Linked DNA regions of Homo sapiens: region 2 is linked to region 1. The links come from fine-mapping of genetic effects on gene expression. A gene starts in region 1. The other region holds a variant in brackets. All regions are shown on one strand. Distances are from middle to middle.

Region 1 (4,391 bases):
TATTTTTCAGTAGACACGGGGTGTTATCAAGTTGGCCAGGCTGGTCTTGGACTCCTAACCTCAAATGATCTGCCCGCCTTAGCCTCCTAAAGTGCTAGGATTACAGGCGAGAGCCACCGTGCCCGGCTGAAATCTTACTTTTAATTGGAGTTAATAAAAACATACAAAGACACGAAAACAAAGCCCTACTCTGTTGGCTTTTGATTTAACCCCGTTACACTTTTTTTTTTTTTTTTTTTTTGAGGCGGAGTCTCGCTCTGCCGCCCAGGTTGGAGTGCAGTGGCACAATCTTGGCTCACTGCAACCGCCGCCTCCTGGGTTCAAGCGATTCCCCTGTCTCAGCCTCCCGAGTAGCTGGGATTACAGGCGCCTGCCACCACGCGCAGCTAAATTTTTTCTATTTTTAGTAGAGACGGGGTTTTGCCATGTTGGCCAGGCTAGTATCGAACTCCTGACCTCAGCTGATCCGCCTGTCTTGGCCTCCCAAAGTGCTGGGATTACAGGTGTGAGCCACCGCTCCCAGCAACCCCGTTACATTTCTTATATAAAATACACTAGCTTACGAGTGCTGATTCTTTCTGCCATACACCAAGGCATGTGAAACTCAAAATTTTAAAGTCAACAGATCTCAACATTTATGAAGAAAATGCTCCTTGATTATGCCTTCCTTAAAAAAAAAATGAACAAGTTGCTCACAAGCAAATCCTGATTATCACATACACAAAGCTGTTTACTTCAGACTCTGACCTCTTAAGCAGATATGGTTAACAGCTACTTTCCTGTATTGACGGTTTTATATTATGATCAGCGATATCACGCAGTTCACAGAGACTTAGCTGTTTGCAGAGCACTAAGAGGATGAAAAGGGCAACCTCTAAAGACCGAACGATATCATCATTACTGTCCATCATGCACAGTAAGACCTCCTATATCCTTAAATCCAAAATGAGACTATGTGATAACTGCTCCCTTCTTAAACTGAAACCTGCACTGCAGCTTTTTCTCAGAGAAGGAAATATTCCTCCTACCCCTTCCCAATTTAGATTTGCAAGTTTTCTACATTTTCAAAAACAAAAAACAAAAAAACAAAAAACAAACAACAAGAAACGTAGACTAGTTGGGAGGAGCCCCTAGCGGAGTTAATTACAGCACTTCACAGATCGTAGTTAGCAATTGACAGTTTCACACCCAAAACAGTATCGTCATCGCCAACAAGAGCTTTTGTTTGCAAATGCAGCGCAGTTTTTCTAGCTTTGCCTGCAAGTTGGAGTGACTGGGTTTTATTCTGAAGGGAAATGGGGGCTGAGGAAGAGAAAGGAGAGAGATACGGGAAAGAGTCATTGACTAATGACTGGAACCCCGTAACTGAAAGGAAATTTCTTGTCCCCCCGCACCCCGCCCCACGCCCCAAACACACACACTTCTGACCATAAACACAAAAGGTTGGGGCTCTGCAATCTTATCTGCGCAATATGAGCCAGCAACCGCTCCATTAGTAGCAAACAATAGGGACTCCCCCAAGGAGGCCCCAAATGGACCCCCTAAACCAGAAATCCCCCTCCTTTCCTCCAAGAGTCGGGGGCTCCATAAATACCCTCTTGTTATTGACCCGCAAGGCCTACTGCAATCAAGCAGCGGCCGGTTTGCTTCTAAACCGAGCCCTCCAATACAGCATGTCCCTGCCGCCCCCTATAGGGCCGCCTCGTACCCTATAACCTCCACCATCATCCCCCTAAGTCCTTGCCGCCCCCTTCGGCCTCATATTCCCTCATCTTCGATAAAGCTACTCCGAGTACTTAGCCTGTTCCTCCTGCCGACCCTGCTGCGCACCACATTCCTATATTCGCCTCCTCTCAGGCGCTCCCACCCCACACAGCTGCCGACCGCCTTCCTCCCCAGGCCCGGCCAGGCCTTAGGCCTCCGCCCGAGAGTCCCCCAGAGCCGGCCCGGGGGGCTCCCCACAGCCCCCAAAGCACCGCTGACCTCGACCCCACCACCTCACCCCAAGCCTCGCGACTCGGGCCCGTGTCCTACCAACGAGGCCACTCCCGCTCGGCACCCTCGGTCCTTTATTGTTGACTCGAAGCTCCCAAAATGGCGGACGCTCCTTCCTCCTCGGAAACCTCCGCCCGCCCCCACCCAGCCCTCTCGCTACGGCCTCCTCTCGCCCCCGCCCCCGCCCCGCTCCGAGGGGCGCGCAGGCCAGCCGCCCGAGCCGCCGGCTCCCCCGGCTGTCCAGCCCTACCTCCTCCGCTGCCCGCTCTCGTGGCGCCGCCGAAGTCGCCGCCTGGCTGAGCTAACTCGGCTCCTCTGCCCCCTCCCTCGCTCGCCCGTTCGCCCGCCCGCCGCCTCCTCCCTCTTTCCCTGCCTCTCCGCATGGCGGCGACCGCGGCTCCTCCTCCACTCAAGATGGCGAAACCTCGGCCGCCGCGGCTATATTCGCCGCGGCGTCACTGCCTTCCTGGCCTGGTGGTGAGAGGAAGTCGGGCCGCGAAAGCTTCCTGAGGAGAAAATGGAGGGCCCTTCTCTCACACCGACGAGAAAAGTTCGAGGGGGAAATACGAGTTCCTTTCTGAAGGGACAGGACGGCTGCTTTTCCACAGCCGCGACGTGATTGAGAAATGGTGGCTGGCAAGGGTAGGCCTGCCTTCGCCCCTCCAAAGTAAAAATCGGGAGTTGAGACCAGAGGAACATCTCTTTATTACATGACTAAGGATATGTTTTGAAAACTGGCCCCCGGGCAGCTGCTCGGGGACAGGAAGCTGACCTGACTTCTCCAGCTGGCCGGGGAGGCTGATGCCGGGCCTAAGGGGCCGCGTCCGAGCCTCTCGGGGCGCGCCTCCATGCAGGAAGGCGCGGAACTAGCGACCCGGAGACGCCGGGCGCGCGTCTGAGTGTGGGGGCAGGAAGGGGGGCCGACCGGGCCCGGAGGCCGCACCAGGCAGGAGGGAGGACTCCAGAGAGTGCGCGGGGGGCGCTGCGCGGTGGGACGGGGCGAGCCTGTAGGGCGCGCCTGGCGGCGGGTAGGCTCCGGGCTTGAGGGTGCGCCTGGGGGCGCTGGTTGTGGGGGAAGGCACCGGGCTTGAGGGTGCACCTGGGCGGGGGAAGTCTTCGGGCATGAGGGCGCGCCTGCGGGTGGTATGGGGGGGTACACCGAGCTTGAGGGTGCGCCCGGGGGGCTCTCATGTGAAGGGTACCAGGCTTGAGGGCGCCCCTGCGGGGGGCGCAGAGGCACCGAGCTTGAGGGTGCGCCTCGGGGGTCTGCGGGGGGAAGGCACCGGACTTGAGCGTGCGCCGGGAGAGGACGGCGGGGGACCGGACTGTGAGGGCGTATCTTGGGGGACCTGTCTAGGAGGAACCGGGAGGTGAAGGCACAACTGGGGGTGAGGCGGGGGCAGGGGCCGGGCTGTGAGAGTGCGACTGAGGGGGGATTACTCCGGAGAGCACGGAGCTGGGGGCGTTGCGCAGGTGGAGTGGGGAGGCCTGGTGGAGAGGGTAGCAAACCGAGAGAGCGCACCGGGGTGGTGGGGGGAGAAGCTGGACTGTAAGGTGAAGAGTTAGTAGGGCGCAACCGTCTTCTCCTGCCCTCGAAGGGCAAGACTGAAGAAAGTAGGGGCGGAGGAGGCCGGGCCCTCCACTAAAGGGAGGGAAGCTAGTGAAGCGTCAGTTATAATAGAAATAGGAATTCAGTAAGGAAATGGAGAAGCTTAAGGCAAAGGGTGACTCTCCGGCCTGACCCTCACTATGAAGATATTTATGTATGTTCCCATAATACTTTTCAGATCCCAATGTCTGTGTTTATCCTTGACAGAAATAATAGAACTGCTGTCTTCTTCCAAGTTAAACAAAACTTTGGAGCTAAAAGCTAGCTAGGTCAAGAGAAACAAAATCTAATCCTCACCCAATTGAGAGACTGAATATACAAAGAATGGCCAAACCTAACCATGACCTCCTACCCATAACCTCTTCAGTAATCGGCCAGAAGGGTCAGGACTTAATCTTTAACCGGCAGCTTCCCTATTTCTTGCCCCTGCTTCCAGCTCTGGGCCAATCAGAGAAAGCCAAATGTGCTCCTCACACCAATCGCGTAAGAAGCCCTGCTTCTAGTATAGCCCTCCTCCAACTTCCCGATGCCAACATCCTCCAATCAGAGCCAACCTGAAGTTTCTCCCTTTTTTCAGTATATGTAAAGCTTTTCCACTCCCCTGCCTGCCTATGAGTCTGTTAAATCAAGTGATGGGTCGCGGCTGACTCTTGCCAGCTCTGAGTAAATAGCCTATTCTCATTTGGTGGTCGTTATTTCTACACAGCCGGTGGGAAGGTGGTGGAGAATAGTGAAGACTATTCTTAAGGTTAAAAAGAAGGTTCGGCTTACATTTTTTTTTTATTTT
Region 2 (4,391 bases), 50 kb after region 1:
AGCTGGAGGGTGAACAGGTCAAAATTATGCAAGCTTTAAAGGGCACAAAGAGGTTGGCTTTTATCCTAGGGGTGCTAGAAAGTCATCAAAGTAGTTTGTGCAGGAATGTAGCCCAAATGATCCAGTTTTGGTTTGGAAAAATTTAAACATAGGCAGTGGCTCATGCCTGTAACCCTAGCACTTCGGGAGGCCAAGGCAGGCAAATCAGTTGAGGTCAGGAGTTTGAAACCAGCTGGCCAACATGGTGAAATCCTGTCTCTAGTAAAAATGAAAAAATTAGCCTGATGTGTCAGCAGGCACCTGTAATCCCAGCTACTCAGGAGGCTGAGGTACGAGAATCACATGAAGCAGGGGGGCAGAGGTTGCAGTGAGGCAAAATCGTGCCACTGCACTCCAGCCTGGGCAACAGAGTGAGACTCCGACTGAAAAAAAACTTTTTTTTAACTTATATGAGAATAGACACGGTTATATTATAGCACCCAAAATACCCATCAATGGCTTCAAATTATCATTTTATGGCCAATTTTTAGGATTTGGGAATAAAATAGAAATTCCCAGGAATTCTCAGAAATTCTTGATATTAAAAACTATTCCGTATTTTCATAACACTTTATTTAATGTTTTAAATGTTAGTATGCAAGATTGTCAAAGAAAAAGACTTTTTTTAATTTTTAAATTTTTTTGAGACATGGTCTCTCTCTGTCACCTAGGCTGGAGTGCAGTGTTGCGATCTCAGCTCACTGCAACCTCTGCCTTGTGGGTTCGAGCGATTCTCCCGCCTCAACCTCCCTCCCAAAGTGCTGGAATTAAAGGCATGAGTCACTGTGCCCAGCCAAAAAAGTTAACATTCTTAAAATAAAAAACATAAACATGCAGGCTGGGCGCGGTGGCTCACGCCTGTAATCCCAGCCCTTTGGGAGGCTGAGGCGGGCGGATCACAAGGTCAAGAGATCGAGACCATCCTGGCTAACCCCGTGAAACCCCGTCTCTACTAAAAATACAAAAAATTAGCCGGGCGTGGTGGCGGGTGCCTGTAGTCCCAGCTACTCGGGAGGCTGAGGCAGGAGAATGGCGTGAACCCAGGAGGCAGAGCTTGCAGTGAGCCGAGATCGCGCCACTGCACTCCAGCCTGGGCGACAGAGCAAGATCCATCTCAAAAATAAATAAATAAATAAATAAATAAATAAATAAATAAATAAAATAAAAATTGCCAATGAGCATTATTGACTAGCATTCAAATAATCTAACATTGAGCTCTCCTAACACTATACAGAATCCCAGATTAAAATTCCCAATTTTTGTATTTACCAAAATTTGTTACTTCTTGGATCACCACTCATTGGATTTATATAAAGCAAACTGTGCATATAAACTCATTACTATTTATTTTACTTGCAGAAATGCCTGTGCTTAGCAGCAGACAGGGCCATGAGCACATACTTCTGACATGGCAGTGAAGGCGAATTGACAGGGATGGGTTCATGCTATGTTTTGGAGTGGGCAACACCATCAGGATATTACAACTCTTTTTTAAAAAAAGTTTTAATTGTTTAAATAAATTTTTAATTTTAATTTTTGTGGGTACATAGTAGGTGTATATATTTATGGGATACATGAGATGTTTTGATATAGGCATGCAATGATTATACAACCCATTTTAATAGTCTCAATGCGCTCCATCATCATTTTGTTGACACAGTAACAGTCTGAGCTAACAGGATGGGTATTAGAAACTAAGAAGGAACCGGGCGCAGTGGCTCACGCCTGTAATCCCAGCACTTTGGGAGGCCGAGGCAGGTGGATCACCTGAGGTCAGGAGTTCAAGACCAGCCTGACCAACATGGAGAAACCCCGTCTCTACTAAAAATACAAAATTAGCTGGGGTGGTGGCGCATGCCTATGATCCCAGTTACTCGGGAGGCTGAGGCAGGAGAATCGCTTGAACCCAGGAGGCGGAGGTTGCGGTGAGCCAAGATCGTGCCATTGCACCCAGCCTGGGCAAAAAGAGCGAAACGCC[G/A]TCTCAAAAAAAAAAAAAGAAAAGAAAAAGAAACTAAGAGGGAAATAAGGCCGGGCGTGGTGTCTCATGCTTGTAATCCCAGCACTTTCAGAGGCCAAGGAGGGTGGATCACTTGAGGCCAGGAATTCAAGACCAGTCTGGCTAACATGGTAAAACCGCATCTCTACCCAAAATACAAAAGTTAGCCAGGCTTGGTGGGACACGCCTGTAATCCTAACTACTCGGGAGGCTGAGGCAGGAGAATCACTTCAAACCAGGAGGTGGAGGTTACAGAGAGCTGAGATTATGCCACTGCATCCCATCCTGAGTGACAGAGACTCTGTCTGAAAAAAAGAAAGAAAGAAAGAAAAGAAACTAAGAGGGAAATGAGATTGGATAGTTGGGGTGGGTGAGGACTCTCAGAAAGGAGGGAGGGCTTCCCAGCAGAAGAGGCGTGTTTTCGTGCGTAAGAAGTGGCTGGGGAAAGCGAAAGCAGTGGGGGCACCCATGATGAGACTGGCTGGCTCTAGAAACATTAGTGGGATTTCACCCACACTTGCTTGGGTAACTTTCTGTTGTCATTGGGAAGCCAGTGGGACTTTCTCGTCCAAGATGAACCAGGGCCCATACACTTGCCACTTTCACTTGTTCCTAGAGGCTGTGTCATGTCTTGGCTGCCTCAGGGTGCAGGGACTATGCTCATATAGTAGGAAGGTAACGGCATACACAAATTAGGTGATTACAGGTCTCACACTTGTCAGTTGGCTCCATTCAATTTCATACTTGGTTCTTTCTCTTCCATGATCTCTATTTTGTTTCTTGAACAGACCAGGACTCTGTAAGCTGAAACGTTTGGTAAATTCCCTTCCTTGCCAGTTTACACTGACTTTGTACCCACAGTTCAAGGCTAAATCCCTTTTTGTCTGGGCTAGTGGTTGCCAAATCCCTTTTTGTCTGGGTTAGCCATTTCATGTAGAGACTGCTTCTCTACCTATACGCTTATTCAAATGCAGTAGTGAAACAAAATCAATGCACAGCCATACAATTACTACATAGCCTGTGTAAAGAATGATGCAGATCTATTTATATACAAATATGGTAAGCTCCATAATATATTATTAGATTTTTAAAAAGTAAGTCTCCAGACAACATTTATAGTAGTGTTTTGCGTGTGTGTGTTTATAATTGCATAGATATAGTTCTGGAAGGATACATGGTAAACTCAACTCTAACAAGTGTGTATATGACAGGAATGAAATAACTCTACTTTTTAGTTTGTTTTAAAAGTATTTTAATTTGCAAGCATCACTTCTATAATGTGAAACAAAAATTAAAAACCTCAAACCGTTGCTCTTCTTGGAGTCACTTGAATTGGTAGCCCTGAAGAAAATTCCTAAATTAGACTTTCTTCTGTTCTTGACTGAACGAGGATGAATGAGTCACCCAATCCTGTGCCAGGTACAGGAATAAATGCTGGACAGTTACAGATGAAAGAGAGCATGTTGCCCTTTAAGGACTTCAAAGTTTACAGAGAGACCAGAAAACAAGAAATTAAAGTACAGTATGATATATGCCACAGAGCTATACCTTGGAAAGAAAAAGGATGGACAGCACAGACTTTAAAGCAGTAACAGGAGGTGGGTAGGAAAGCCTTCCAGAGAAGGTAAGAATCGAGAGGAGTCTTTTATTTTCCCTGTTACTTTATTATTAAAAAATGTCAAACATAACTGAAAGGTTGAAACATCTGCAGATCCACCACCTAGATTCAACGATTGAACATTTTGTTGTATTCACTAGATATGTAATACAAATAAACAAATGCAAAGCCATTTGAAGTTTCACCCCTAAATATTTAAACCCCAACTCCTAAGAATGACATTATCTTACATAACCACAATGCCGTTATCAAACATAAAAATAACATTAAGGGCTGGGCATGGTGGCTCACGCCTGTAATCCCAGCATGGTGACTCAGGCCTATAATCCCAGCACTTTGGGAGGCTGAGGCAGTGGATCACCAGGTCAGGAGTTCGAGACCAGCCTGGCCAACACGGTGAAACTCCATCTCTACTAAAAATACAAAAAATTAGCCAGGTGTGGTGGCAGGCGCCTGTAATCCCAGATACTCGGGAGGCTGAGGCAGGAGAATCGCTTGAACCTGGGAGGTGGAGGTTGCAGTGAGCCAAGACTATGCCACTGCACTCCAGCATGGGAGACACAGCGAGACTCTGTCTCAAAAAAAAAAAAAGGCAAAAATGAACCCCCCCGATTAGCTGGGACAACAGGCATGCCCCAAAACACCCAGCTAATTTTTGTTTTTTAAGTAAAAATGAGGTTTCACCAAATTGGCCAGGCTGGTCTCAAACTTCTGACCTCGTGATCCACCCGCCTCAGC

Alleles and levels. Alleles are on the strand shown, and positions count from the first base shown. SD is a standard deviation of normalised expression in the study named.
As copies of G replace A in region 2, the expression in monocytes of the gene that starts at base 2,312 in region 1 goes up (moderate effect, 0.41 SD a copy in Quach 2016).

The links. PIP is the estimated chance that this variant, and not a neighbour inherited with it, causes the effect. A credible set is the group of variants that fine-mapping cannot tell apart.
Region 2: its variant is the best candidate, but not a certain one, in a credible set for the expression of DDX6 in monocytes (Quach 2016, PIP 0.59).

The regions. Positions count from the first base shown.
Region 1 is chr11:118,788,853-118,793,243 of GRCh38, forward strand. DDX6 (DEAD-box helicase 6) reads right to left here and starts at 2,312. Exons shown (of 14, transcript NM_004397.6): 1 at 2,246-2,312. RefSeq lists enhancers at 912-1,469, 928-1,107, 2,418-2,527, 3,144-3,699, 4,088-4,197 and silencers at 1,308-1,387, 2,018-2,347, 2,798-3,087.
Region 2 is chr11:118,839,104-118,843,494 of GRCh38, forward strand. No RefSeq gene overlaps it. Among named protein-coding and RNA genes, the nearest start is that of CXCR5, 43 kb to the right of the region's middle. RefSeq lists enhancers at 186-295, 2,389-2,438. The variant G/A (reference allele first, on the strand shown) is at 2,018.